Homo sapiens: one gene and its partners. The protein of the gene in region 4 interacts with the protein of the main gene of each other region in a pairwise test. Each region holds a gene or a part of one and is shown on either strand. Other genes may lie near its edges. The genes, in order: GRAMD2A, TGFBR2, CDCA7L and TRAF3IP3.

Evidence for each region.
Region 1: the proteins of TRAF3IP3 (region 4) and GRAMD2A interact in binary tests that used the Homo sapiens proteins (3 or more experiments, as listed by UniProt).
Region 2: the proteins of TRAF3IP3 (region 4) and TGFBR2 interact in binary tests that used the Homo sapiens proteins (3 or more experiments, as listed by UniProt).
Region 3: the proteins of TRAF3IP3 (region 4) and CDCA7L interact in binary tests that used the Homo sapiens proteins (3 or more experiments, as listed by UniProt).

Annotation. Positions count from the first base shown.
Region 1 is NC_000015.10:72,166,769-72,173,794, reverse strand, and holds part of GRAMD2A (GRAM domain-containing protein 2A), read left to right. Parts: intron 1-2,393; exon of another isoform or gene 2,394-3,855; coding exon 3,856-3,948; intron 3,949-4,798; coding exon 4,799-4,856; intron 4,857-5,228; coding exon 5,229-5,304; intron 5,305-5,955; coding exon 5,956-6,059; intron 6,060-6,702; coding exon 6,703-6,801; intron 6,802-7,026. UniProt on the Homo sapiens protein: Participates in the organization of endoplasmic reticulum-plasma membrane contact sites (EPCS) with pleiotropic functions including STIM1 recruitment and calcium homeostasis.
Region 2 is NC_000003.12:30,644,580-30,651,605, reverse strand, and holds part of TGFBR2 (TGF-beta receptor type-2 isoform B precursor), read right to left. Parts: intron 6,860-7,026; coding exon 6,691-6,859; intron 1,337-6,690; coding exon 1,146-1,336; intron 1-1,145. UniProt on the Homo sapiens protein: Transmembrane serine/threonine kinase forming with the TGF-beta type I serine/threonine kinase receptor, TGFBR1, the non-promiscuous receptor for the TGF-beta cytokines TGFB1, TGFB2 and TGFB3.
Region 3 is NC_000007.14:21,914,892-21,921,917, reverse strand, and holds part of CDCA7L (cell division cycle-associated 7-like protein), read left to right. Parts: intron 1-5,023; coding exon 5,024-5,164; intron 5,165-7,026. UniProt on the Homo sapiens protein: Plays a role in transcriptional regulation as a repressor that inhibits monoamine oxidase A (MAOA) activity and gene expression by binding to the promoter.
Region 4 is NC_000001.11:209,751,872-209,759,078, reverse strand, and holds the start of TRAF3IP3 (TRAF3-interacting JNK-activating modulator), read right to left. Parts: upstream 3,027-7,207; 5' UTR 2,770-3,026; intron 582-2,769; exon of another isoform or gene 225-581; intron 46-224; 5' UTR 1-45. UniProt on the Homo sapiens protein: Adapter protein that plays essential roles in both innate and adaptive immunity. Plays a crucial role in the regulation of thymocyte development.

The DNA of each region.
Region 1 (7,026 bases), on a different chromosome or scaffold from region 4:
ACCATGCCCAGCTAATTTATATATTTTTAGTAGAGATCGGGTTTCACCATGTTGGCCAGGCTGGTCTTGAACTCCTGACCTCAGGTGATCCACCTGCCTCAGCCTCCCAAAGTGCTGGGCTTACAGGCATAAGCCACTACACCTGGCCAGGAGTTGGCTTTTAATTTAAAGAGACTTGAAAGTTGGCCGGGTTTGGTGGCTGAGCCTGGTCTGAAGGCAGGAAAGCTCCTCCCTGGAGTTGTCGTGAGCGCCTGCTGCATGCTCAGCACTGGACTCAGGGGATTCAATGAAGGACCAGGCAGAGTCTGTGAGCCCCTGGAGATGCACAGTCATGGCACACAGACACAGTGTGACAGATGCTGAGCAGAGACTTCCGATCAGGGTGCTGTGAGTGAGTATCTGAAGCAGGGACTACTCACCTAGGCTGGGGGAGGGCTGAGGGAAGGCTTCTCTCCCTGAGACAGTCACATTTGAACCTAAGGATGTGTTTGGTTTAGAATCCATGCAAAGACATGGTTATCTATGCAAGATTAGATAATCCATGCAAGATTATAATTATACCCAGTTTCTAAGGCTCAGCTTCCTTTTCTCTAGGAACCCCACTGTATTTCAGTTCCCAGGGATCTGTGCATCCTCTGAGCTCCTGCAGTCCTGAGAATTTGACTCACATTCTCAAGCAACAGGCTCCCTGCCTCTGAAAGCACTGTCCAAGCTCCTTCCCATTGTCATCCCGTTCTATCCCTCATCCATCCTTCAGTCTGGGATGCAGGTTCTTCAGAGCTGAGCCCACAGAATTTTTCCCTGGCGGCCCCATGGATTCACTGCCAGGCCCACGCTGTAATGGCTCAGTGGTCTGACTTGCATATCTACTCCCCCCAGGCCTGTCCTGTGAGAGGACTGAGACCAAGCGAGAAACATACATGGAAGAAATAGATGGAATCTCCCATGCAGTAATTACACACAGGCACAGCAGAAATACCACAGACAAAAGAGAAACGACAAACTGGGGAAAACATCACAAAAATGATAAACTAAGGATTAACGTTCTCAATAAAGAATTTACAGGCCAGGTATGGTGGCTCACACCTGTAATCCCAGCACTTTGGAGAGGCCAAGGCAGGTGAATCACCTGAGATCAGGAGTTCAAGACCAGACTGGTCAACATGATGAAACCCCATCTCTGCTAAAAAATTTATATATATATAAATAAATTAGCCAGATGTGATGGCAGGTACCTGTAATCCCAGCTACTCGGGAGGCTGAGGCATGAGAATCACTTGAACCTGGGAGGCGGAGGTTGCAGTGAGCTGAGATCACACCACTGCACTCCAGCTTGGGTGACAGAGCAAGACTCTGTCTCCAAAAAAAAAAAAAAAGGCTAGGCATGGTGGCTCACACCTGTAATCCCAGCACTTTGGGAAGCTGAGGTGGGACGATTGAGCTCAGGAGTTTAGGACCAGCCTGGACAACACAGTGAGACCCCCGCTGTCTACAAAAAAAATGAAAACCTTAGCCCGGCATGGTGGAGCATTCCTGTAGTCCCAGCTACTTGGGAAGCTGAGGTGGGAGGATCACATGAGCTCGGGAGGCTGAGGCTGCAGTGAACCAAGATTGCGCCACTGTACTGTAGCCTGGGCGACAGAGTGAAACCCTGTCTCAAAAAAAAAAAGGCCGGGCGTGGTGGCTCATGCCTGTAATCCCAGCACTCTGGGAGGCCAAGGCAGGGGGATTATAAGGTCAGGAGTTCGAGACTAGCTTGGCCAATATGGTGAAACCCCCGTCTCTACTAAAAAATACAAAAATTAGGCACAGTGACACACGCCTGTAGTCCCAGCTACTTGGGAGGCTGAGGCAGGAGAATTGCTGGAACCCAGGAGGTGGAGGTTTCAGTGAGCCAAGATCACGCCACTGGACTCCAGCCTGGGCGACAGAGAGAGACTCCATCTCAAAAAAAAAAAATAAAAAAGCCAGAAAAAATTTATACAAATGAAGAAAGAACTTCAATACAAATGAAGAAAGAATTTCACCTGTGAATTCTCTATAAGACAATGAACTTCCAGTGGTTAATAATTATTTGGAAAAAACTGTTCAACCTACCAGTAAGCAGAAATACAAATGAAGACAACGTATTTTCACCTATCAGATTTGCAAAGGTGAGCGAGAGACAATATCCAGAGAAGGGCATGAATATGGGGAAACAGGCACCTTCATGTCGTGCTGATGGCTGGGTTAACTGGAACAGCATCTGTTCATTCTCAATCCACTAATTTCACTTCTGAGAATCTATCTTAGGAATGGACAGTGAGTGACATGGGAAATTTCTCATGAAATCAGGTTAAGCCACAGAAGTAGGGTATACAAATTATAGATTATATAACCATTTACATAGGTTATATGTTTATCATACATTTTTTATTTGGGTGATTTTTGGGGAATCTTTAGGTGATTTTGATCTTATATATATTTTTCATATTTTCTATAATCTTTAAAAATCAAGGGAAAAAAAAAAACCTCTGTGAAATGTGACATGATGGAACCAAATAAATCCAGAAATCAACTTTGAGAGTCAAATCTCTAGCAAAATCTGTCACTTCACAAGACTGTTGTAGGTATATGTTGATATGTGTGGCAAAATCCTCTCTAAGGTTGAGGACAGAGGTAACCAGGCCACATGGCCATGGCTGGGCTGATTTTGTGGGTGAGGTCACTGGCTGTTCACTGTAGGACCGGACACAGCCTGTCCCTTGGCAGGTCTCAGTTTCATAATCTGTACAATGGTATGGTGGGAGCGGGTGAGGCTGAATCAATCTCTGAGGGTCCTGGCAGATCTTGGGCTGAGGCGAAAACTCTGTTCTTGAAGAAGAGAACTTTGGCTGGCCTCAGTCACAGAGCGGAGGGTGACTGAGCATTGAGATTTGTAGGTTCCAGGCTCCAGCTCCTAATCTGCAGCAGGACCACTGCACGTGACCTTGTTACCTGTTCCTGACCACCACACTGCCCCAGCACGGCCCTGCTTCTTGGCCACCCTCTCTTTCTTGGTCAGCCCCTGGGCCCACTTGGTTGGGGCTGGCTTGACGGCTCAGGCTTTATTGATGTGTAGCCTGGAGGAGCAGGAACAGGGTAATGATTCTTTGGAGCGATTAGTGGAGGCAGGAACTCAAAGGCCATTGGAGAGCCCGACCTGCCCAGGGAGAGAGGATCTGTTCCCTCCTACGCTCTCCCTCAGGGACATTTTTGAGATGGTTTGGCTCTCATCATCAAGCTGTCCTGACTGTCCAAGGTGGCTGAGGCCACTTCCTGGTATAAGACGGCTCCTCCCCTCCTGGCCACACTCACCTGTAGGCTGATGGGCGTCCACCTCCCACACCTTCAGCGCATCAGCTCCTGAGCTTTGATAAGGCCTCCTGTGCTCAGCCTACTTTCCCGGAACCTGATGGTTTACAGTCATGCTGCGCGGGTACTTTGGACACTTTTGTTCTCGGCATAAGCGAGTCTCAGGGTCCTCCCTCTCAGTGTGCCTCCTCAAGGGTGGGGCTAGAGGCCTCACTCAGCCTGGCCTACGAGCTGCCTGGCACTGGAGATGAGGTAGACAGGTTGATTTTCCTCCCAGCCTAGGCATAAGCAGAACTTCTGGCTTTCGGGAAAGACGCTGTGTGAGACCCGCCTACTCCGTCAGCCATCCCAGAACCTCTGCCTGCGCTGCTGCCTCTGAACTGTGACATTTTCAGTGTCACCCTCAATATCAGGGCCAGTCTTGGGTGGGGGCCAGAGGCAGCGGCCATGGGCATGGTGGGGCTGTTAGGGAAAGGTGTCCTCATGAAGCCCCCTTCCTGATATGGGCCTGTTTTTCCCTAGCAACCAACAAATGCACAGAAAGACAGCTTCTCTGAACAGTCCTGTGTCCTGCAAAGAGAAACCAGACAGAGTTGAGGAGCCCCCGGACTACAGGTGAGGACCCCTTTCCCAGTCATAGATACACACAGACTAGAGGGTGGGAAGCCCTCAGGAAGTGACCTGTTTGTAAGAGGACCTCAAGGCAGAGCCGGGGCCCCTTTGCAGGTCTGTGAGGTCAGGCACAGGCTGCCCCAGGCTTCTTCCTCCCGCCCCTCAAGACTGTCCCAGTGCACTGGGACCTAGCAGAGTCCATGCTTCTCGGGTTTCCAGCCTCCTCCCTGCTCACCTGTGCTCTGGGCCAACCTGGCCAAGGCAAAGGTTTACCTTTTTTTCTCAGTGCCATCCCCCTCTCCCAGTGTGGTAGCCTCAGCCAGGTCAGGTGAGTCTGTGCCAAGCTCCCCGCAGCAGAGCTCAGGCCACAGGAAGGAGGCGGCAGGGAGGGCAGTCCTGCTGGCATCATGGCCTGTGGCCAGGCCCCGGCGCTGTGAGTCTGACACCTTCACCTCACCCACACCCCAAACTGTCCCTATTCCAGCACTGCCTGCTCCCCTGCTTACCCCTTGGCCAGAGAAATGGGACAGGGTCTTTGACACCCAGGTGGGAAGCTCCTCAGCATCTCTGGGAGACCAGGCGCACCTCCAGGAGATGCTGCTCACCCGCACTGGGGAAGGTGGGCCCTTGGCGACCCCTCTCTACCTCCCGCAGTGCCCTCCCCCAGGGATGAGCTGTATAGTTTAGCTGTGTGCTCGCTGTACTTGTCATTTTGCTGTGTCCCCTAGAGAAGGGTCCTAGTCTCTGATCTCTGCCTCAAGCTTCTGGCTCAAGGCCAGGGCAGAATTGGCACTGAGGATGCATGGGCAGGACTGGGGTTCCTTGTTCCCGAAATGGAATGTCTCCTTTGCAGTCTGCACTGGCCAGAAGGCTTGAAGGGTGAAGAGATAAAGAAGTGTGGCCGAGAAGGGGTAAGTCTGGAGGCTGACTTCTCACTATTCACCCAGGAAGGGGTCCTGGGCTGCCAGAATTCAGTGACTTTTGGCTCCTTGGCCACCGGGCCTGTCATCAGGAAATCAGGAGACCTGAGTGTGTATCCCTTCCTGGGTGGGAGTAGTGTGTCCCCCTCTGCTAGTACAAGCTGCCTGTCAGGACCTAGCAGCACCAGGAGACAAGCTGTGCTTGGCACACAGCCCTCCATACTCACTGGCTGCTTACTAGCTGCCTCATGCTAAGTCCCCAGCATGGGCCGGGGGGCTGTGGCATTTCCTGTTGGCTGGAGCAGGGCCCCTTTGGCGGTCTCATCTCCCAGCGCTTCTCAGACGCAGCCTGTGTGTTTGCAGATAACACTGAATAAATACAACCAGCAATACCACAAGCTGTTTAAGGATGTTCCCTTGGAGGAAGTGGTTCTCAAAGGTGAGCTGTCTCCCGGTATAGCTGGTTAGGCACCCAGAGTGCCTGGGGCCAGGGGCCTCTGCTCTGGAGCCTCCAAAGCACGACTTAGAAATGGGAACTGGCTGTCCTTTAGATGTGGACCACTCCCCTAGAATGTGAGAAGACTGGGCTGGTGAGAAGACTGGGCTGGTTTGGACATAGCATTGCATTTTTGAAGGTTTTCTTGGGGAAACGTCAGGGCTTTGGAATCTTGTGTCCTGCTCTTACTGGTGACTTCTTACCTGCTCTGGCCTCTCACTGAGCAGGTGGGGGCATTTGCACAATCAAGGCCCTTGGGGCAGAGCAGAGCAGGGAAAGGTCAGGGATTCTGCCTGAGGTGGTGAGAATGCAGGCTTGGAGATCAGGGCAGGAACTTGCCTGGACCCTCTGGAGCAAGGGTGGAGAAGGAAGAAACATCCAGCAGGCTGGTGGAGTGGAGGAGCAGTCAGGAGAAGGACCCTTCGACGCTGGGGAATGGACTGTTTGGGGTTTGGGGCCTGCGGTGGGGAAGGGGGAGTCTGAGGAAGACAGGTCCTGAGGCTGGACTGTGGACTCCAGAACGTGAGGACCCAGGTCCTGGGGCTTCCTGGGCTGACCTTGCTTATGGCCATTTTCTCTCCTGTGACATCCTAGTGTGTTCCTGTGCCCTCCAGAGGGACTTCCTCCTCCAGGGCCGGCTCTACATCTCCCCCAACTGGCTCTGCTTCCATGCCAGCCTCTTTGGCAAGGATATCAAGGTAGTAATGAGTGGTGAGGGCTGCCATGACCCTGTGAGGGGAGCCAGCCTCCTGCCCCACGGGCATGCCTCAAAGTCATGCCTATCTCTCTGCGTGCTGGGCCCCGGGTGAAGCCCCTTGCTGGTTGGATGCGCAGCTTCGAGGCATCCCATCCAGTGTCCAGGAAAGTAGTCCTGCCCCTTCAAAAACAGGGGCCCAATCTGGACCCCACATCTGGCCTGAGCTGGCCTGAACAGTTCACAGCCAAATCATTCTGCCTCTGGGTATTTCAGAAATGCTTTGAGAATCAGAGTGGGATATCACATTTAGGCGGAGCCCTAGCTGTGGCCAAGAAGTAGCCTGGGGAGCTCCATTACTAGAGTATGAGATTTACCAGAGCCACCATCCTTGGCCTCCTGGATAACAGGGATCATACCTATGTGACAGCCAAGAGTGACACATCCTGCCAAGGCTGGGGCAGGGTGGCAGGGACAACTGGAAGGGGAGCCTGGATGAAAAGGTAGAAGGTTCAGAGACTTCCCCACATGGGGCCAGGCTTCCCCATGGTGGCCATGCTGGGCTCACAGCTGGGTCCCTAGGCAGGGAGCAAAGGGACCACGTCCTTGGGGGTTAGTCCTGAGAGAAGCATCCCTCTCCCTCTCAGGTGGTCATTCCTGTGGTGTCTGTGCAAATGATCAAAAAACACAAGATGGCACGGCTCCTTCCCAATGGACTGGCCATCACCACCAACACCAGCCAGAAGGTCAGTGCACTGGGCCCATGCTCCCTTGTCAGTCTCCCGCTCCCAGCCCTGACAGCCCACAGTCTGACTCGGGCACATTCCCAGGTCTTTATTTCACCCCACCCTGCAGCTCTCCAGTAGGTATTTCAGGCCGTACAACAAGCTGGAAGAGAAGTTCCTAGGCAGAGCTTCTGTTGGCTCTCATGGCCTGATACCCCTGTGGGCCTGTGCCCAATCCACAAGGGG
Region 2 (7,026 bases), on a different chromosome or scaffold from region 4:
CATGATAAGATCCATCGTGGGAGATAATATGAAATTCGAGACTAAATTAAAAGATGTACAGTATATCTATGTGTTCTATCTTGTTTAGAAGGAATTGTAAAAGTGGTTGGGTATAAAAAAGTGTTGCAAAATAATATTTATAGTATGATCAGATAGTTGTACTGAAAGATGGATGAGTGGATGGAAGGATGGACAGATGGATGAAAGGAGGGAAAGAGAAAGGAAGACAGGGAGAGATTGGGAGAGAGGATGGAGTGGGAGATAATATGAATGAATGATAGAGACGTGTGTGCATCTAATACATTGTCAATACAGATGATCTGTTGCATTGGGAGTGAGGGGAGGACGAAAATGTACTTTCATTTTTAATTTTCACACACTGTTGGATTGTTTGAAATTTTTGATGACGAGCATATACTACTTTTGTAATTAAAAACCACTGAATTCTCTTCTTATTAAAAATTGAGGGAATAGTGTATGCCTTCCTTTCAAGCTGAGTAAACGCTGAACTTCAAAGATGGAGGCTAGTATCTAATCTACTCTTCTCCTGGCTCTAGGGGTAAACTTTGGCTTATTATTTCCTCTCTGTATTGCAATGTTTCTCTCAAATGGGATCGATGACAAGTACCCTAAAGACAAATCCTGGGACTATGTACAAGAAACAACATCAGTTATAAAGAAAGTCCTCCTCCAAGATTAAACAACCCCATCCAAATCTTTAGAACAATAGTTACCAAATTTTAGCTGCACAGAATTACTGGGAGGGCTTGTTAAAATACAGATAGCTGGGGTTCACCCTCTATGTTTCTCATTTAGTGGGGCCTGAGAATCTGCATTTATAACAGGTTCCCAGGTGATACTGATGCTGGCTGCTCAAGAGGCCGCACTTTGAGAAACACTGCTCTAGGTGAAAGAAACTATTTGTCAAAGACAAATAATAATGTTTGCCCCAGTCAACCATATTTGATGAGAACCAGAACAAACCCTGCTACTCCCCAAGCCCCTCTTTCCACCAGCTGAATGAGCTCCTAATCCACTGTATGCAATCCACCACAGGAGGAATGTGCTCTATGACACTGCAGACCAAGGATACAAAAAATTGGCACAGATCTCAGGTCCCACACCCTTAAGAGAAGAAAACTCACCTTCTGAGAAGATGATGTTGTCATTGCACTCATCAGAGCTACAGGAACACATGAAGAAAGTCTCACCAGGCTTTTTTTTTTCCTTCATAATGCACTTTGGAGAAGCAGCATCTTCCAGAATAAAGTCATGGTAGGGGAGCTTGGGGTCATGGCAAACTGTCTCTAGTGTTATGTTCTCGTCATTCTTTCTCCTAGAGTGAAGAGATTCATTGGAAGCGAGGGGAGAGGGAGAGAGAGAAAGAGAATAAATGAATAATATGGCCTCCAGACAGAAAGGCAATCTGGAATACTTTTCCTTCATGAAGTTGTTCCTAACAACGGCAGCTGGTTCCTGTTCTCCAGCATTCGCAGGCTGTCCTATAGTCTCCTATGCTTTTCTACTCTTTTCTGTTTTTCCTTTGTTTATTCTTGGAACCCATTTGTGATTATAAACATCACCTGGAGCAGACAGCGTTCCACGGGGCAGTCCTGGTGGAGAACTTTACATATTTAAGTCTTAATTAAATCATTAAAGGGGAAGACATGGAAAAAAAGAACATTCCTAGGTACTCAGGATAATTTTAAATCTTCCATCCTGAATGTAATGCAAACCTCACATCACACCCCTAGTTTAAGTGGCAAAATCTGTCCTGTCTAGCTATACTGTTTTCAAAGAGCATGCCTGGGGAAATAGTCACAGTTCCTCTTTTTTTTGTTTGCTGGGCCCCAGAGCATTGCGTGTAAAGGGTATACTCCTTGTCAACAGCTGGTTCTGCTGAGAAAAACGGGAAGAAACATCGCAGATAAAGAACTGCAGTCTTTCCCAAATTACAGAAAGGAGCAATTCAGAAAAAACAAACAAACAAAAAAAACAAATAAATAAAAGAAATGGAAAGGGATGTCAGGGTGTTCTTCATTTACAGTTCAATGAAATATTTTATGCTGTCATAAACTAACTACTTTGACAGTATCACTTCATAGCACATATTTGAAGACTAATTTAGCCCAGGGCTCAGAGAATTTCTCACATAGCATTTTCCTTGGGCCCTAGGAAATGCTCAATTGGCCGTCAGTGTACATTAGATTTTTAAACAACATGATTAATGCCCACTATTATAATTGAACAAAAGAACATTTTGGCTCTCTTGGAAAAGGGTATCACCTCTCTATCTACCTCCCTCTGCTCCCTCATGAACATACTATCTTGGATGACTGTCCAACAAGGCTAGTCTGACATCCACCCTTTCACCTCTGTCCTTTTTAGATGCAAAATACCTGTTGTCTTGAATCGCATTCTCTCTGTCTAGAGAGGGAGCGGAAGGAAGGGCTAATCTGGTCCAGTCAGTTTTGCTAGAGTAATCTTCTATGAAGATTCTGAGTGCACACATGAGCCAATGCATGCATGTACTCACTCACCAATTTTCCCCTAATCCTCCCTGCCCCATGCACAAAGGCTCACTGCTCACAGCAAGGAAAACGGAAGGCAGGCTAGAAGCAAGAAGCAGCTAAGACACAGCTTGCACCTATAAAAGATGCGGGGCCATCCCCATGAGAGAAAGAGCAACTTTGACCAATACCACTTTTTTAGTGCTTAAGTCAAGGACATTAAAGGACAATATGTTGACAAAGGGATAAGGGCAAGGGTATGGGTTAGGACAATCCAGGCAGGAATGGTGCCAGTGTCAACATCCATGCAGCCCAGAGTTGACTCCAGTGGAGGTACATGTGTCTGCTTGTGAAGGGGCTCAAGGGTTCTTAAACTAGAATTCCGAAAGACACAAGAGGAGCAAGGCTTTGCTAAGTTGGTCCCTGCTGTGACAGGAAGAGTGACAAGCAGAATAATTGGTTGAGGGTGGCTATCAGGACACCAAATGAAACTAAATGAAAGTTGGCATGATCATACAACAAATGATGTATAATTTGGAAATCTACCCATCTTTAACCCCAAAGCTACTTGGCAGTCTTCAAATCAGCTGTAGTCATGGAACAAGAACACCTTCCTCCCTGCCCCCACAGTTTTGTGTGTGTGTGTGTGTGTGTGTGTGTGTGTGTGTGTGTGTGTAGGTTGTTTTTGGTTTGGGTAATAAAACGAAGGTATGCTGTGCCCACAGAAAGGCATGGTCTCTTTTCCTTGTGACGCTTATAGAGGCCTAAGAAGGAACTGTGAGCCATGAAAGAAAGCTGCTCTATAATTATTGGGCAGCTCTTCCAGAGCCTCCGGTTTTCTACCTCTTAGCTACTGAGAGAACTAACATCACAGAGAGAAAACAACTGTAATACTTGAGACCTGGTAAAGCCCTTAACTGCTTTCTCCACTCACTCCTGTAACAGCCAGGCACAGCTAACTTTTCAAACTCTTTTTGGATATAGCTGAGCATAGGAAAGGTAAATACAAAGAAGTAAATACGGACTTCTTTTTTTGTCCTGCAACATTTGCTCTGAGCCACTGAAGAGGTTGTCAATTTCCACTGAAAGAAGAACCAACATGATAAAATTAATTTTGGAGGCTGGGCACGGTGGCTCATGCCTGTAATCTAAGCACTTTCAGAGGCCGAGGCAGGCGGATCACAAGGTCAGGAGTTCGAGACCAGCCTGGCCAACACAGTGAAACCCCATCTCTACTAAAAATACAAAAAATTAGCCACGTGATGGTGGTGTGCACCTGTAATCACAGCTACTCAGGAAGCTGAAGCAGGAGAATCGCACGAACCCGGGAGGCAGAGGTTGCAGTGAGCCCAGATCACGCCATTGCACTCCAGCCTGGGCAACAGTGGGAGACTCCCTCTCAATTTAAAAATAATAATAATAATAATTTTGGTTATAAAATATTTCTATCCTTGGAGGCAGCTTAAGCATTTTATATGGAATGGGCACACAACTGACATTAGTTAAATGAATGAATGAATGAATGAATGAATGAAAAAACACTAAAACTGATTAAAAAAACAACAACACTGAAATCTACAATCATAGTAGAGCCTTTCAGTTTCCACACTGGCTATTTTTACAATAGCCTCCTGTCTTAGTTTAGGTTTCCTGGAAACAGACCTTGAGGCTGTGAGAGTTCTGTGCAGGAGGTTTTTGGAGATGCATCTGTAAGCGACTAAAGGCAACAGTATTGCACAGAAGGAAAAAGCTAAACTATAATGCAGGTTGCAGCAAAGGCCTCAGTGAATGCCTTGGAAACTCTGAAAATGGGATGTCCTTCAAAGATGTACCACATTATGGCAAAATAACCAGGAATTTGTTTCTCTGCATCAACTAGCCATGGGATGATGGCTACCCATGAAAAGTGTCCAACGTGAATGAGGCAGCTCCCATCACTGGAGGGAAGGCTCAGCAGTGATCCTTCAACAGCCAACACTCCCAGGGAATGAGTGCCTTGGTCATGAAGGAGGATCAAGGAGGGCACTATAGCGTACCCTATACTTCCCCTTCTCATTATCAACACCCCTGGCTTCACGGGAGAATTTTCTTTGGCCAGCACAGGTCAAAATAATGTTCATTGTATTTACCCTTTATAGCTGGGACACAGAAAAGACAGGGAGGCCTCCTCTCTTCGACATGCTCACATTTTTTTGAGGCTAGCAAAGCCTCTATTCTAGAGAGACTTGATTCACATTTAATGATTTGGGCTTGTATTACTGGTCAGGAAAACAAAAATCTTAATTAAAAGAGCCTTTTTGGGTTGCAAAAGCAAGTGCTCACACCACCGTAGATATTTAAGAAACCACGGAAGGAAGCTTTGAGGCCATCTAGTCTGGTGTCTCAATCTTTCCTGCATTCTATTTGACATATGGTCATCCAGCCTCTCCTGAACTTCACTTGGTGCTTACAGAAAAGGAAGCCTGTTCTGCTGTTGGGAAACCATGATTGTGAAAATGTCTAAACTTATGCTGAGCACAAGTCTGCCTGCCTTGCAAATGTTATGGATCCTCCCTCTACCCTTCAGAGTTATGCAGAATATGTTTATTATATTTTCTACCTGAGAGCCTTTCAATTTCATCAGCAGAACCCACGATCTCTCTTCACTGTACTAACCATGTCTAATTGCCCAGGCCATTCCTCAGACAGCATGATTTCTAGGCCTCTAACCACACTGGTCCCTCTCCTCTGAACACATTCTTTGTCCAAATCCTTTCTTTGAAAGCGTTACCTAGAAGTGGACATGGACAGGTATCATATCATATTGGCAAGTATGTCATGACAAGTCTTTGCTGTTAACATTCCTTCAGTTCTTAAGAAACCAGTTCATCCCGTGGTATGTACAGAAGTTTGCAAGGTTTCCAGATCTATCATCAAGGCTAGCTTTACATGGTCTAGGGGTCTCAAATGACTCATTCCCAAAAAAGGGGGAGAGATATTTGGGTTTATATTCTTGTTTGTCAACTAGCCAGGAGACACATAAGTTACTTTTTTTAAAATGGCCAATAAATTAAAAACATCAGAATAAGTCTGCAAAATGTCATATCTCATTAATGAATTTATGTACTTTTGTAAAATTACAACTCTTCTAAAGATCAAGGTTATTTCTTGTTCATGCTCACAATCTATAACCATGAATTAATCAAATGATTCATGAGTATCCACTGTGTATGTATAATTATTATTTGAGATGTATGTATGAGTTGGAGGGAATGAGAGAGAGAGAGAGAGAGAGAGGAGAAAATGTGATCCGATAAAAATATATAGTTCTGGTCGGGCATGGTGGCTCATGCCTGTAATTCCAGCACTTTGGGAGGCAGAGGCGAGTGGATCACCTGAGGTCGGGAGTTCGAGACCAGCCTGGCCAACATGGTGAAACCCCGTCTCTACTAAAAATACAAAACTTAGCCAGGTGTGGTAGTGGGCACCTGTAATCCCAGCTACTCGAAAGGCTGAGACAAGAGAAACGCTTGAACCTGGGAGGTGGAGGTTGCGGTGAGCCAAGATTGTGCCATGGCACTCTAGCCTGAATGACAGAGCAAGACTCCATCTCAAAAAAAAAAAAGAAATATGTAGTTCTGAGCTGAGAGAAAGAAGTCATATCTATCCCAATGGTTATATGAATAATATAACCAGAATTTCTGACTAAAAAAACAGGTTGTTTTTGTGGTTCTCCAAGTAGATTCCCCATTTTTGGCTGGTAGTTTTCTCTTCCAACAGCCAACCTTTCATCACCTCTTCTTCCAGACCTGAGATTGCCTCAAGAGAACAAAGCTCCTGGTCTCACTATGGGGTGCTGAGGAGGTGTCGGTTAAATGACTACTAAGCGGCAAATCCCTCTTCTTGATACAAGAAAGAGTTTCCAGATTTATTATATTAAAGATCATTTTATGATCTTTACATTTATCATGATCATTTTATAATCATGATACGTTTATATACCCACATAAACGTACACATACATGCAGAGAACACCCCTAGAAACTACATTTAATAATCGAAAGAGAGATGGTCTAAAGGAAAGGGAAATGGAACAGGTGTTTACATTTAGGAGACAGAGATACACTGACTGTGTGTACTATGAGAATACATTATGTAAAAAGGGGAAAAGAAAGAATAACTTCTTAAAAGGCTTGCTTACCATACAGCCACACAGACTTCCTGTGGCTTCTCACAGATGGAGGTGATGCTGCAGTTGCTCATGCAGGATTTCTGGTTGTCACAGGTGGAAAATCTCACATCACAAAATTTACACAGTTGTGGAAACTTGACTGCACCGTTGTTGTCAGTGACTATCATGTCGTTATTAACTGAGGAGAGAGAAAGATATATTAAATGATTATCCAACTGCCAGGCAGCCTGCCAATGAATTCCTGAAGATGTTATGCAATTTCAAATGAACTTGATGTCATGAGAATGAATCTGAAGAAAGGCAAAATAATTCCTTCACATCAGATTAGAATTATCTGGTGTATGC
Region 3 (7,026 bases), on a different chromosome or scaffold from region 4:
TCACACTGTTAATTCCAATAAAGACAGAGTAGACAAACAGAAACTGTACATGAAAGGAATAGCATGAAGTTGTCGATTTTTAACAAGTATTATAAATAATGAAACGGTCTTTTCACTTTCAGATGAGAATTTTCCCTTTTTTTTTTGGTTCACTAGATAGTAGTTATCCTAATTCAGAAGTTCAACTAATGTAAATATCCATTGATTGAGAAATTTTGTATTTTTGTTGTTTTCAGTTACTTGTTGTAGTTTTCTTTTTGGTGAGTCTTATGATTGGCTTTATTGTAATAGAATGGAACACAAACTTTGAAAAAAAAAAAAAAAGGTCTTGCATTTTTGTCTAGACTATGCAGCTACCCAGTGGATCGCTGCTGAATGGAACAGGAAAGTGACAGATCCTTGGGCCTAATGTATCACTGTGTTGTGGAACTGGTCATTCATTAGAAGAGGTCCCTGTGTATCCTTTCTATCAGGTCCTTCTCATATAAATCTTGCTGCCTTTGTTGCATCTGTTAGACAAATCAGTTCGTTGCATTGAGGACACTTGAATATTTTACAGTTTTTTTTTTTTTTTTGGCAAATCTTGAAGCTTGTGACTATCTGAAACTCTTTTAATACCTTTTGAAGGATCAGAGCCCTGCGTACCCCAGGAATGCACACCGTTTTTTTGAAAGTGTGCTCTTTCCTTTTGTTCCTAATCAGTAATTATAGCCCCCTAATGGTACCTCTGGAGCAGATGCAGAAGTCAAAGATGCAGAAGGAGGAATTAGCTAGTCAGACACAGGCTCGCAGCAGTGGTGGGGCTGAACACAATAGCACAGGGACTAATGCAGTTGCTGCTGGAAGCAGTTTATTCCTATCACCAACCCTCTCCATTCCTTGTATGTATTTCCATTAAATCCATAAATGGGGTGCTCCTCCTCCTTTAAACCATTTATGTTAAAAGAAGCTTCTGGGCCAGCAGGGCTGTTTGAATTTTGTAGAATGGTGAGAAGGCCAAAAGAAAAAGACTGAAATTGACACACTGTCCCTCTTAGTGCCTCTGCAGGGACTGAACTCAGTGGCTATTATGTAGCTACAACATAGGCACACTTTCATAAGTATTGTCTGTGTTTCTCTAGTCTGGGTGTTTTCCTTGCGTATTAGTTCTGAGTGCTAAACAACAACAAAAGGTGTCTTTGAAAAGATAAGGTGGCAAACATTGTTTAACATACCTCCTTGAGAAAAGTTTCAATATTTTCCCCAAGAATGATGTCAGAGTTAGGCTTTGCTAGTGCTGCACTACGTGTGGCTGGTAAAAAAATTGTTAGTGGAACTCTACTTCTGTAAGTGTTGTTCTTGTTTGTCCCTTGCAGTGATTTTATTAGATGGTGGGAAAGTGTTTGTATTAACCCTTCAGCATCACTGAACTTGGGGTATCCCATTTCTGTATTTATGTTACACTTCCTTTGATTGAACCATTATTTTCTAATTATTTTTAATCAAGAAGCATTAAAATAAGGATGAAAGTAAATAGATTAAGGATTACCAGTTTCCTAAATGGAACCTGACTAAATGTAAAATTAAGTCAACACACCCACACAGAGAATTCCACGAAGCTAAGTAGCTTTTGAATACACAACTCTGTATATGCTAGTGCAGTGGTCAAAGTGTGAGATGGAGGACCTGAGACCCTTTCACGGGTCCATGAGGGCGAATGTAATGTCATAATAATACTAAGATTATTTGCCCTTTTTGCTGTGTTGATATTTGCACTGATTGTGCAAAAGCCAAAGTGGAGAAAACTGCTGATCTTTAGCATGAATCCAGGTGGTAGCAACAAACTGTATTAGTAGTCATTGCATTCACCTCCATGCACTCAATTTAAAAAGAAAATGTCAGTTTCACATAAGAATGTTCTGATGAAACAGTAAAAATTATTAAGTCTCAACTGTTAAGGACATCTTTTTAATATACTGCATGATGAAATGGGAAGTACATGTGAAACATTTTTGCATAACCATGTACAATGATCATCTGGTTAGCTGAAGGAAAAGATCCTGTGTATAGTGAGACTATGTTCCAGGGCTAGAAAGAACTGCAAAGAAATCTTGAACTGCACTGTTTGTTGTTGGTAGTATATTGGTGGCGTCAGTTTGGCGCTATTTTGTGTTTATTGTAGATAGAGCACCACATGGATAAGTATATTAAAAATTTTGGGAATCGAGGGTTTTCCTTGTGGTGGAACGGCGATGCTAATGTGAGATGAGGGAGAGATGAGGGAGCAGAGGAAGAAGCCTCCGTGTTGGATTTGAATTCAGGGTGTCACCATGAACTTGTGATTTACCTATTTAAAATATCCTTGCTCTGTCCAAAGAGCCTACAAGCAGTGATACTTAATTAACCGAGATGCATTGTGTTCTCCGAGCTTGGTTTTTAAATGCCATTTCCCAGTGAAAGGTTTCAGGGCTCCTTGGAGAAATGGCTGATTTGAGGTCTGGGACAGGAAACATACAAGGTTAGCTTGCCATGCTTGTGTCAGAAAGCAAGGAGGTGTTGAAAGACCCTTAGTGCCATGTCAGAAAGACAGAGGATGACTTTCCAAGAAGCTCCCAATGGCCAAATTTGGGACAGTCAGCATTATGAGAGTATGGATTATAACACATTTAATAATAATTTTTAGAAATCCATGGATATACATGGTAGAAGAAAAGGGGGAGAGTGAGAGAAAGACTATATTATACAAGAATGCCAGCTACTTTGTGAAGGAGAGAGAAAATCTGAAAATTTCTCTTTTGCAGTCCCTAATGTAATAATTCATTCAAGGGTGCCCTGGCTCATGCCTGTAATCCCAGCACTTTGGGAGGCTGAGGTGAGAGGATCACTTGAGGCAAGGAATTTGAGACCAGCCTGGGTAACATAGACCCTGTCTTTATTAAAATAAAAAATATAAAAAAAAAGAATTGTCAATGGACGCTGAAACTGTTGAGCAAGATGTTATCAGGGAGGCTATTCACAGAATCTCAAGTCTCACTCTGCATATTCCTTATTAGTGACAAAGGAGAAAGGGTGTTTTTTGTTGTTGTTATTGTTTTTTGTTTTGTTTTGTTTTAAAAGCGAAGAACAAATCAGGCTGATTCCACCTTAACTTATTGACCAAACAGCAACATCACTAAAAAAAGAGACAGCCAGACCTTATGTGCTTTCCAAAGGAAGAACATAGCACTTCCTAAAAAGTAGTCTTGGCAAAAGCAAGCCAACTAGAAGTAAAGCCTCCGGATTCAACTCCCAAATTGTAAACCCAAATGAGTCTGTTAAACACCACCTTGGGGATGCAAAAAAAATAAAACTTCAGACTTGGACAGACTCCACAGTCAAGTGACCCAGCTTCTTCAAAAATAAACTGCAAGAGAAAAGAGATAAAGGAGTGATGAGAAGGGATTTAAGAGCCATGTTGATCAGTGTGAACCTTATTTGGATCATGATGCAGATAAACTAAGTTTTTAAAAAATGAGGCAGAAGAACTGTGAATACAGACTGCACATTTGATGATGATACAGAGTGACATGATACTATGTCTACAGTTGCCTCACAATAATTTAGAAGAAGGGGAGTTGGGTCGGGATCCAGGGGAAGCACAGTTAGCCTTGGGCAGATAATTACGGGGAGGATCAATGTGTGCTCATTACAATATCTTCCCATCTACTTTTGAAATATCTTTGAAAGTTTTTATAATGAAAAATTTTTTAAAAATTACTAATTAATAGTGGGATAACTTGACATTTTGTGCCCCCTTATGCAATGCATTGAGGAGTACATGTCACCTATGTAGAATGGTGACAAAAATACATAACCTGAATCTAATCATGAGGAAACACTCAGATAAGCTCAGAATACATGACATTCTACAAGGCAGTTGTCATGGTCTATCTAAAAAGAAAGTCAGTGTTGTGAAAAACAACAAAAAACAGTGTCATAAAAATCAAATAGAACAGTTGCAGATATTAAAATATAGAGTTACAGTAAATCGTACTATTGAATTAATGTTAATTATTTTCGGTACAATTATGGTTTTGTGGTTCTATGGGAGAATGTCCTTATCCGTGGGAGATATGTGCTGAATTATATTCGGGCCAATCAATACAATGTTTGCAAATTACTTTAATCAATGTGTGGGAATATATGGATTAGGTTGGCTCATATTAAATTGCTATTTTCCTAAGTTAAAAACAGCCAAATATCAGCAAATGCCCATGGTTCAACCTAATATTTGTTGAAACAGAGAAAGAAAGCAAATGCAGTGACCAATAATGGGTCTAGATAAAGAATCAACAGGTGTTTGTACTATTTTTTCACATTTCTGTGTGTTTGAACTTTTTTAAAACAAAGAATTGGGAGAAAATAGTCAACTTACAAAAATGAACTCCAGCAGATACATATTTGTGGATTAAGTGTGCTGACATTGTTCTCTCTGGGATCAATTATCCCCTAATAGCATTTGAATTCTGTTAGAATTAATCCCCAGCTACTTAAGTTGACTTACAATATAGAAAAGAAGAAAAGCTACTTATTTCATTGTATGAACTTTCTACTTTCTGAATCAGCCTATGACAAAGAAGAGAAAAATAAATAGTGTAGGTGAACATTAAGAAAAGTGCTTAATGATATTTTATGGCATCTTTTTTATGTAGATGACATTTAAAGATGCATCCACTGTAGGAGAAAAAAGAGATCATTGGTTCTTAGAAACAATTTTTCTTTTTGTCAAGAGATCAAACATGTCTTCTCTCTGGCCTGGTTTTAACATTCTCTGTAAAATAGGGTGTATATCTAGAATTTTAAGTTTTATCTCCCCCACCCACCCCACACCTTATTTTGCCATGAGTTCTTAGCTGAAGAGTGTTTTGCTGAGGGTTACTGGGGACTTCTGGGCAACCGTGGCAGTTGGATGAAGTGATGAGATCTCTCCTCCCCTCCAGAAAATGTCCCTAAGTGATTAGCAAGAACCCCTGGTTTAATCCTGCCTCTTTTGAATCCAAAACAGATCCCTAAAGAAGTGGCTGACATCTTTAACGCCCCCAGTGATGATGAAGAGTTTGTTGGCTTCCGAGATGATGTTCCCATGGAAACCCTCTCGTCAGAGGAGAGCTGCGATAGTTTTGACTCACTAGAGTCAGGGAAACAGGTATGGATGATTCCTTCCAAGCAGATGTGTTCATCTGGAGGCCTGAATCTTGGTTTGGATGTTCTTTTATTTGAACATGGTGTGAGATTGGTGATATCAGTTCATTGTCTAGCATTTTATTTTAGAAACATTATGTCTGTGTCTTCCTGTTTTAAAAAACTGGTGAGAGAACCTCGTTCACTTTGCTGTGTTAATCCTTCCCTGTACCATAATTCTTTTTTTTTTTTTTTTTTTTTTTTAAATAAAGGGACCTCACATGATCAAGTGCATTTTCTTGGCTGCCTTGGGGCTGTAACCTGTGGCGAGGCTGTGTTCAGGGTCTTCCCACAGAGGCGAGGCTGCGGCGAGGCATGAGGGATTGTGTGGTTACGGGGAGACAATTACACCTCTGTGGTCCCGTGGTGCAATTCTGTTGGCATGTCCTCTTGGAATTGCTGGGGAGAGCCTTATTCTTGCGTTAATTACTTTGATCTCTAGCACTCACAAGTTAGAGTTCTCTGACAGGTAGATTCCTGGAGGTTCACATTGTGTCCTAGTAGTAGAATGGCCAAAATCTCTACCCTTCAGTGGCATTTTCTTCTGAGTTAATTGTGGCACTCAAAATTCCTCATTCTGCCTTGACCATGGCCTCTCCAAAAAGGCAGCAAATTAAACCCACTTTGCTTCCACTGGGCAAGTCCAGGAAGGGAAGCAGTTAATTATATGTAAGTGAAGTGCCTGCTTAATTACGTGGGCCACTGTAAGTTCTGGCCTGGTGGGAGCTGTGCTTTCTGAGATCTCTGGAGGCTCCCTGGTCTCTGTCGTCCTCATCTCATTTGGCATCTCCACAGCAGTTGACCCCACCAGTAGACCTCCTTCTAACCACCTGGGTTTCTTCCTCTCTGTTACACCTTTTGCTCTTTGTTATTATTATTTTCTTTCTTTCCAAGATGGAGTATCATTGTGTCACCCAGGCTGGAGTGCAGTGGCATGATCTTGGCTCACTGCAACTTCTGCCTCCCGGGTTCAAGCAATTTTCCCAGCCTCAGCCTCCCGAGTAGCTGGGATTACAGGCTCCCACCACCACGCCTGGCTAATTTGTGTGTGTGTGTGTGTTTTTTTTTTTTTTTTTTTTTTTTAGTAGTGATGGGGTTTTGCCATATTGGCCAGGCTGGTCTCAAACTCCCGACCTCAGGTGATCTGCCCGCCTTGGCCTCCGAAAGTGCTGGAATTAGAGGCGTGAGCCACTGTACCTGGCCTGCTTTTTGTTACTGTCACTTGTTTTCCCTGTTCGTGTCCCTAAATGCAGATGTTCTCTAAGGGTTTGTCTTCAGTCTTCTCACTTAGTGAATCTTGTCTGTTGTCCTGCTTTGAGCTGTTACTGTATTCTTTTGTGGAGCTTGTCTTCTCTCTCCAGCCCCAGGTGGTTTCTGACTACCAGTTGGACTGGTCCTGGTTGCTAAGGGAGATCTGAAACTCACTTCTCCTTCCCTTGGTTGTCTTTCTGGCTTCCCCCTTTCCCCATCTTGATTTCCATCTTTTGTTCTTGGCCTTCCCTCCCCTCTTCCATCTCCTTGACTCCCGTCCAGGAGTTGATGAAACTTCTGCTGTGTTCCTGGTGTCCATCCTTCCCTTCCCTCTGCAGCTGCCGTAGCCCTCGTAGCTCTTACCCGAATGCTCATCCCTTCCTACTAGGATCTGTTATAGGATTGACCTCCGGTCAGCTCCTCCCTTAGCCCTCCATCTGAGCACAGTCAGGCGGTGGGGAGAGCAGAGCCTGTTGGATCCACCTTGAGGAGCATTTGAGCAAGGCAGAACATGTCTAAAGGGCCGAGCACAGAGCCTGGCAGGCACCGGGCATTAAGAAACAGAACAGCTGCTTC
Region 4 (7,207 bases):
GCCATCCAAACCCACAAGCACATGAATTGTACCTCAATAAGGCTGCTGCAAACAGAAAAGAAACAAAACAAAGACAGTAATCAGAAGTTTCCAGGGAGCCAGGCTTGGTGTAGGGGCCACAGGATGACCCTCTGCATGGCCTTACCTGATATTCACATAGCACCTAGACCTGAATCCCCTTTTCCTTCTCTGTGCCTTTCTCTTTCCTACTCTTCCCCACCTACCTTCTGTAGTTTATCCTCCTAGAACCCTCTGGTCACTTTGCTGAGTTGGGCTGGATTTGGATGAGCTGGATCCTGAGCGTTGGAAATTCTGTGTCCTGCCTCCTCTGATCACTGGAGTCAGACCAGGGACTGATGAAGGAAGAGGGACTCCCCCTCACAGCTGCTGCTGCTTCTCTTCCTCCCACGACCTCATTACCCACCACCCTGGGAGGAGGGTATCTCAGCTTCACCAACTAGCAGGCATTTGCTAGCTCTAACCCCTTGGGGTTTATTTATAGGCCAAACAGACTCAACAGGTAGCAGACTCTCTGCCCCTTTACTGGGACTTCGCTACTCTGGCTCAGTCTGGAATTCTCTGCAGGATTCTTGTTTTCTCTCTGATCCTACCACTCATTCCCCAGGGTCATGGGTGGGGCAGTCTTCTTCCCTGAGAGGAGTTTTGTGTGGTCAAGCCCTGGACACTCAAATGCCTGACTCTTGAGGGTTGGAGGGGCATACTCTGGTGTCAGGCAGCATTGATTCCAAGCAGAAATGTGAGGTTATTAATGTTTGTCCTCTACATACCCATTCTGAATGGCTCTCTTCTTTGTTTTTCCTTACTTCTTCTTCTCGGATAAGGGTGGGAGTGGGCATAGGGGGTGGTCCCTTGACTTCTTCCCTGCCACTTTCTTTATTTAAAGACTTAAAAGAAAGGGTCTGAGAGACCCATGTCTATTGTTATAAATGACTGAATGGAGGAGACGCAGGATTATGTGCATGTGAACTCCATGTCTAGAACCTACACTCACAGCATCCCTGAGCCACAGCCCCTGGCTATTCTGCCATGGATTGCAGTGGAGAACCCTGGCTCTTGGAGTCACACTGCGTGGACTCATGTCCTGGCTCTGTCACCTACAACCTGTGTGTGTTTTTAGATAAGCTATTAAACATCTCTAAGCCCCAGTCTCCTCATTTATAAAATGGGGCTAGGACCTGCCTTGTAGGTTATAAGGATTAAATGACAAAATGCAGGCCATGCACCTGGCATGGAGCACACAATAAATGTTACCTTTTAATAATAAAGACATAAAGTATTCCTATTAGGTTGGTGCAAAAGTAATTGCGAATATTATCCTTGTTATGCCGATGTTGGATATTGAAGACTTGGTGCTGTAAGACAAAGGCTCCAAGCTAAACTAGCACTTCTAGGACCAAGAATGCCTTCTCTCATCCTCTCAACCCTCTCTCTCTTTGACAGAGTATATTGTTTACCAGATTGAGGGGATGCTGGCCCCAGGCTGAAGTCACATTTACTTCTGACCTCTGGGTTTGGGCTATAAGGAGAAAGGCTTCTCTGTGGTCTGGACATAATTGCCATCCCAATTACACCAAGCCGAAAGGTAAGGAAGAGATGGGGTCTGCCTGTGTCACACATAAGGTGTGAGGTCCCCTCCCTGTTTGGCTCAGCTTCCCCACAGGTTTTGTAGTGGAGGCAGAACATTGAGAATCCTCCTACCTTCTTGCCGCGAAGAGGAAAGGGCTGTGGGGGAGAAGACAGTGCCTGAGATGAGGTCTCTCTGGGCTCTCCACCCAGGCCACCAACCTTAGTCCACTGAAACACACAGCTGCTCTGCTCTCTGCTTCCTTGGGGCAGACATGGAGCCTTCTTACCCAAGAAAGGAGCTGCAGTGGAAATGGCTCCTTAGAGAGGGGAGTGTTCCCAGATGCCTTGGCTACCACACCTGCTAGGATTTGGTGCAGCATGCTGCATAGAACCCTACCCAGGTTTCTGGGATATCTGGACCCTACTGACTTGCTTGAAAACAAGAAGGTATGTGGGACGGCTGACAGGGGTAGGCTGCTAAAGAAAAGGGAACTGGTCCCTGTAGGGTTCAAAGAAAGATCACTTGGCCACTGCCCAGGCTTTCTGGCATCTCTCAGGTTCCCCCCTGGCAGCATGACTGGGCTCACTTAGAGCTTGGAGGAAGAAGGTTTACTGGCTGGGAAGGCTCAGCCTGGTCTCTCAGGCTGCAGAGAGAGAACAGGGCATGGCTCCTCACCTGACTGTGGCTTGACATGCCTTTCTGAGTCTCGCTTTTACTTCCTGGCCATGTTTGTAATGGAGACAATGAATGGCTTCCTGCATGGGTTGGCCTTCCTGGCCCAGAGCTCTCAGTGTGAACTGAGGGGAGAGGGGCCTGCGCTTAAGCTGCTGGGAAGGCAGTCTTGTGTTCAGGGATCCCTGCTTTGAAGAAAACTGTAAAAGGTCATTTAATTCATGCCCATATCACTGGGTAGCCTGAACTCTAAGTCGTTTGACTCACTCCTAATCTAATGTAATCTAATCTACTGGAACAGAGGAGTGGTGCAAGCTGTACCCTGTGCCATGGCTAGCGCCACAGGAAACCAATACAGGATACTTTCTTGGTTACCCAAACCCCTGACACCCTTAAACTATGCCACCCACTCTCCACCCAGGGGAGCTGGGATGGTAGAGCATCTTCTGCCCTACCCCGAAGTTGGAGTTCCCAAACCTGGACACAAAAGCATCCTCCTTCTCAGTTACCTCCTAGTCCCAGGCTCCAACTCAAGCCACTCGGGAAAGCATTCCAGTCCTGGGCAGATCTTGGCTCTGGTCTCAGATGGAGCAAGACAGCAGATGGGTAAAGCACACGCTTTCAATCCATAGGTCTGGGCCCCATTAACACGTCCCTTCTTGGTACCGTCTTTCTTTTTGCACAGCAGCCTTGCTGAAACAGGAAACAGACAAAGCCACAAGGTTCGCAAACCCCAGTTCCTCTCTCTTGCTCTCTGGTATCATCTAAGTGGGCCCCTGAACTCTGAGGCCTCCAGGGCTGGGCTCAGGAGCTCCTCCCATCAGTAGGCACCCCGGCCACCCTTTCTCTTGCTACTGGATTGGTCGGAGCTCTTGGACAGTTTCAAGTCAAGATTCCTTTCCATGATTAGAAAAGGATAGTCCTCTGGGTCAGATTCAGACCTTTGTGGTTTCTATGAGAGGGAAAAAAATGCCTTTTTGGTGGTAAGACCTAGATGAGATGTTCTCAGTGTAGGCTTTCATGTGTATCAGGTAGTTCTTTGTGTAAGGATTTTCCTTTTTCTTTAGCCACCTCTTCCCAATCCTGGTGTTGTAAAGAGTTTCTGCTCTTCTGAAGTAGGTGGTGTCTTTCTCAGATTCTGGAATGAGACCAACTCTGGATTTGCTCCTTTCTGGAGCAATGAGGAGGGAGTGTAAAGGTGGGTAGCTGGGGGATGAAGGAAGGAATAGAAGGCAGAGTCTTCTACACATTTTTTTATCTGGTCAACCGGACTAGGAAATTTAGGGAAAAACTAAAGGGAACTGATTTGCATGCATTAAGATGAAGCCATCACAAATGATGCAGCCAGGAAATTCCCAAGAAGTTCAGGCTAAAATAGTGGAGAGGAAACTGGATTGGGACAAGTTAACTGAGCAGCTTTGTAACCTTGTAAAATTCACCTTGTCTGGATGCTACTCACTGTGGTAGTTGGGTGATGTATGTGGCTCTTTGGAATTCTAAGGTTTGACACATGTGAGGCAGGTAATGAGACTTAAAAATAGCTGTGATAACATTTATTAACATGTGGAGAGTTTGTCACCATTTTCTCTGCTTCTGCTTCTTTCTCTGTTCTTTGAGGAGAAAAAGGACAAGGAATCGGCAGGGAAAAGCAGAGGATGGATTCTCAAGCACTAGGACTGAAGACAAGTGGCATTTACTCAGGATGAGAGACAACAGCTCAAGGCCCTGTGTCTGGAGCTTGACACATAGAGATGGGAATGAGTAGAGGACAGAGGGCTTGGGGAGCCCAAGATGTCAGAAAAAGAGAATTTTGGCCGGGCACAGTGGCTCACACCTGTAATCCCAGCACTTTGGGAGGTCCAGGTGGGTGGATCACTTGAGGTCAAGAGTTCAAGACTAGCCTGGCCAACATGGTGAAACCCCATCTCTACCAAAAATATAAAAAATTAGCCGGATGTCATGGCATGTGCCTGTAAACCCAGCTACTTGGGAGGCTGAGGCACAAGAATCGCTTGAACCTGGGAGGCAGAGGTTGCAGTGAGCCAAGAATGTGCCACTGCACTCTAGCCTGGGCGACAGAGTGAGACGGAGTTTCACTCTTGTTGCCTAAGCTGGAGTGCAATTGCGCGATCTCGGTTCACTGCAACCTCCGCCTCCCAGGTTCAAGCAATTCTCCTGCCTCAGCCTCCTGAGTAGCTGGGATTACAGGCATACGCCACCATGCCTGGATAATTTTTTGTATTTAGTAGAAATGGGGTTTCAACCATGTTAGTCAGGCTGGACTCAAACTACTGACCTCAGGTGATCCACCTGCCTCGGCCTCCCAAAGTGCTGCGATCACAGGCATGAGCCACCACGCCTGGCCAGAGAATTTTTATTGGCATAGAAGAGTGAGAAGATTCTGGGAGTTCAGGGCATTAGAGCGTAAAGAAAGACAGGAGATTTTAATAGGAGTTCCTATAGAGACCTACTATTTGGACTCCATTAAACATCAGAAAGAAATGTCTACAAAGTCCGCAGTCATTGGGATACTAATCCCATGATAACTGGGATTTAGAGTGGTCAATGATATGCTCAAGATCACACAGAAAGTGTTGGACCCAGGTTTGCTTGACAGTAGGTTTGAGCCCTTAACATTGTGTTCTGAGAACAAAACAATTAATAAGGTTGTCATACCTATCTATCTATATTGAAAAAGACACACACACACACACAGAACTTTGAGAATAGAAAATATACCTTATTTTCAAATGCCCACGAGACATTAAAAAAATTGACCATATGGATCAAAAAGTAAACCTCAGTATATGTTTTGAAAAGTTGATCTATTATGGCAGGATTTTCTGACCACAGTACAATACAATTGAAATAAATAACAAAAGATGGAAGAAAGAAACACTTTAACTTCTTGGAAAAAAATTCTTCCCATTTACTCTGAAAAGATAGAGGGAATTTCAAATCTGCAATTAAGAATGCATTGAAAACGGTGATAGTGGCAACATTATGAGGAAAATCTGTGAGGTATGGCCAAGCAGAATGCAAGGAAAATTCCTAGCTTTAAACATTTTCATTACCTAAATCAAGAAGATTAAAAATAAATTTCCTATTCATTTATTTTCAAATGAATTGCTAAAAAATGATCAGAAAAAAAGGAGGTGAGAATTTTGAAATGATAAAAGGAGAATATATAATAAGTTAGAATCCTGTTTAAAATTGATAAAAAAAATTCAGTTTTGTGTGTGCATCTGGCAGGGGGAGGAATGGTAGACATACAAATAGAAAACAAAATCAATAAAATAAAATATCAGCGAGCCAAATCAATTTAAAAAAGAGAAAAGACATTATAAAAGTTTAGGAATGATACATGGAAAGTAGCCACGATACGGTGGAAATTAATTATAGAGAGTCATTTGTGTAACTATGCTAATGATTTTTAAAATCTAGATAAAATGGATTTAAGAAAATGAATTTACCAAATTAAGCTCAAGTAGAGATTTGTAGTGTAATCATCAGCTGGCCTCCAATAGAGGGTTTAATTCAGGCTGCTCTTGAGCTGGGCACCAGGCTTTTAGTGGCCAGTATCCTTTGCTTCTCCTCATCATTTCCAGGTTCAATGGGAACAACGGCTCCCTTTTTTGATGGTCATATTCTGAAACAGTTTCCTTGATAGATGCTGGGCCCTGTGTAGTCCCCCATGAGGCGATGAGTATGGGGTAAGCTACCCTTTCCTTTATAGCCTGGTTGCTTCACAATACCACACAAGCATGTGTAAGATTATCAGATTTTATTGTACAGTTGGGGTAACTAAACTATATGCTAATATGACTTCTCCCATACTCCAAGAGACAGCACTAAGGAGTTAAAAAAATTTTTTTTTTCTTGAGATGGAGTTTCGCTCTGTTGCCCAAGCTGGAGTGCAGTGGCATGATCTCAGCTCACTGCAACCTCTGCCTCCCGGGTGCCTCAGCCTCTGGAGTAGCTGGGATTATAGGCATGCACCACCACGTCTGGCTAATTTTTTGTATTTTTAGTAGAGACGGGGTTTTGCAATGTTGGCCCGGCTGGTCTCGAACTCCTGACCTTAAGTGATCCACCTGCCTTAGCCTCCCAAAGTACTAGGATTACAGGCATGAGCCACCATGAAGTTAAACACTTTATGGGGGTCCCCTCATGGGTGTTACCAGTTCTAATCCCACTCCTCTTTCCACTCTACAGGGTGACTCCTACCTATCTTCTGGGAAATGGCAACCTCATTCATAAGAGTTGTTCTTGCCTTAGAATCCTTCCCTACACTCCTGACAAGGTTTCTTCAGCACCGCATTCCTCAAGTCTAAGTTATTCATTCTAGAATAGTGCTGCAGACACTCTTAATAGGATAGTCCACAGCGGCCTTGGCACTCCAAATTTTGCAGAACAGCTCAGGGCAGGCATACTTAAGTCTGTTCGCATTCAAGTTCAAGTTCTCCTTATCAGGTGACTTGCAGACTCTCCTCCTTAGTTTTCCAAGTGTCTAGCTGGTAACTGTTTACTCAGATGTCCACACAAACATCCCAAAGACAAATATTCATTCTCAGAGATGATACAGTCTAAACTCACCAGGAGGAAGACAAGTATTTCCTTGACTCCTACGTTTGCAAGGTTGCTGCTCTGTCGAGTTATGACTGTACATTTGTGGCAGGACAGAGTTCTAAGTCCTCCTCTTGTCTTTGCTTGCTTTGTATCATCATTGTTGGTAGAGAGCCTTTTCGTGTAATGAAACCTCAAATTTATGCTGTAAGAGACTTTCAATATTAGCAAGAGATTTATCTGTTGTTTAGATTCTAAGAATCTGAAAGGCCTAACCATAAGGCTCAAATAACTGTGGATCCGTTCTTGTGGGTCCAGCATTGAGCAAGGGACAAGTTACTTTTTGTTGTAGGCTCATAAGAAAGGTGGTCTCACTGGCTG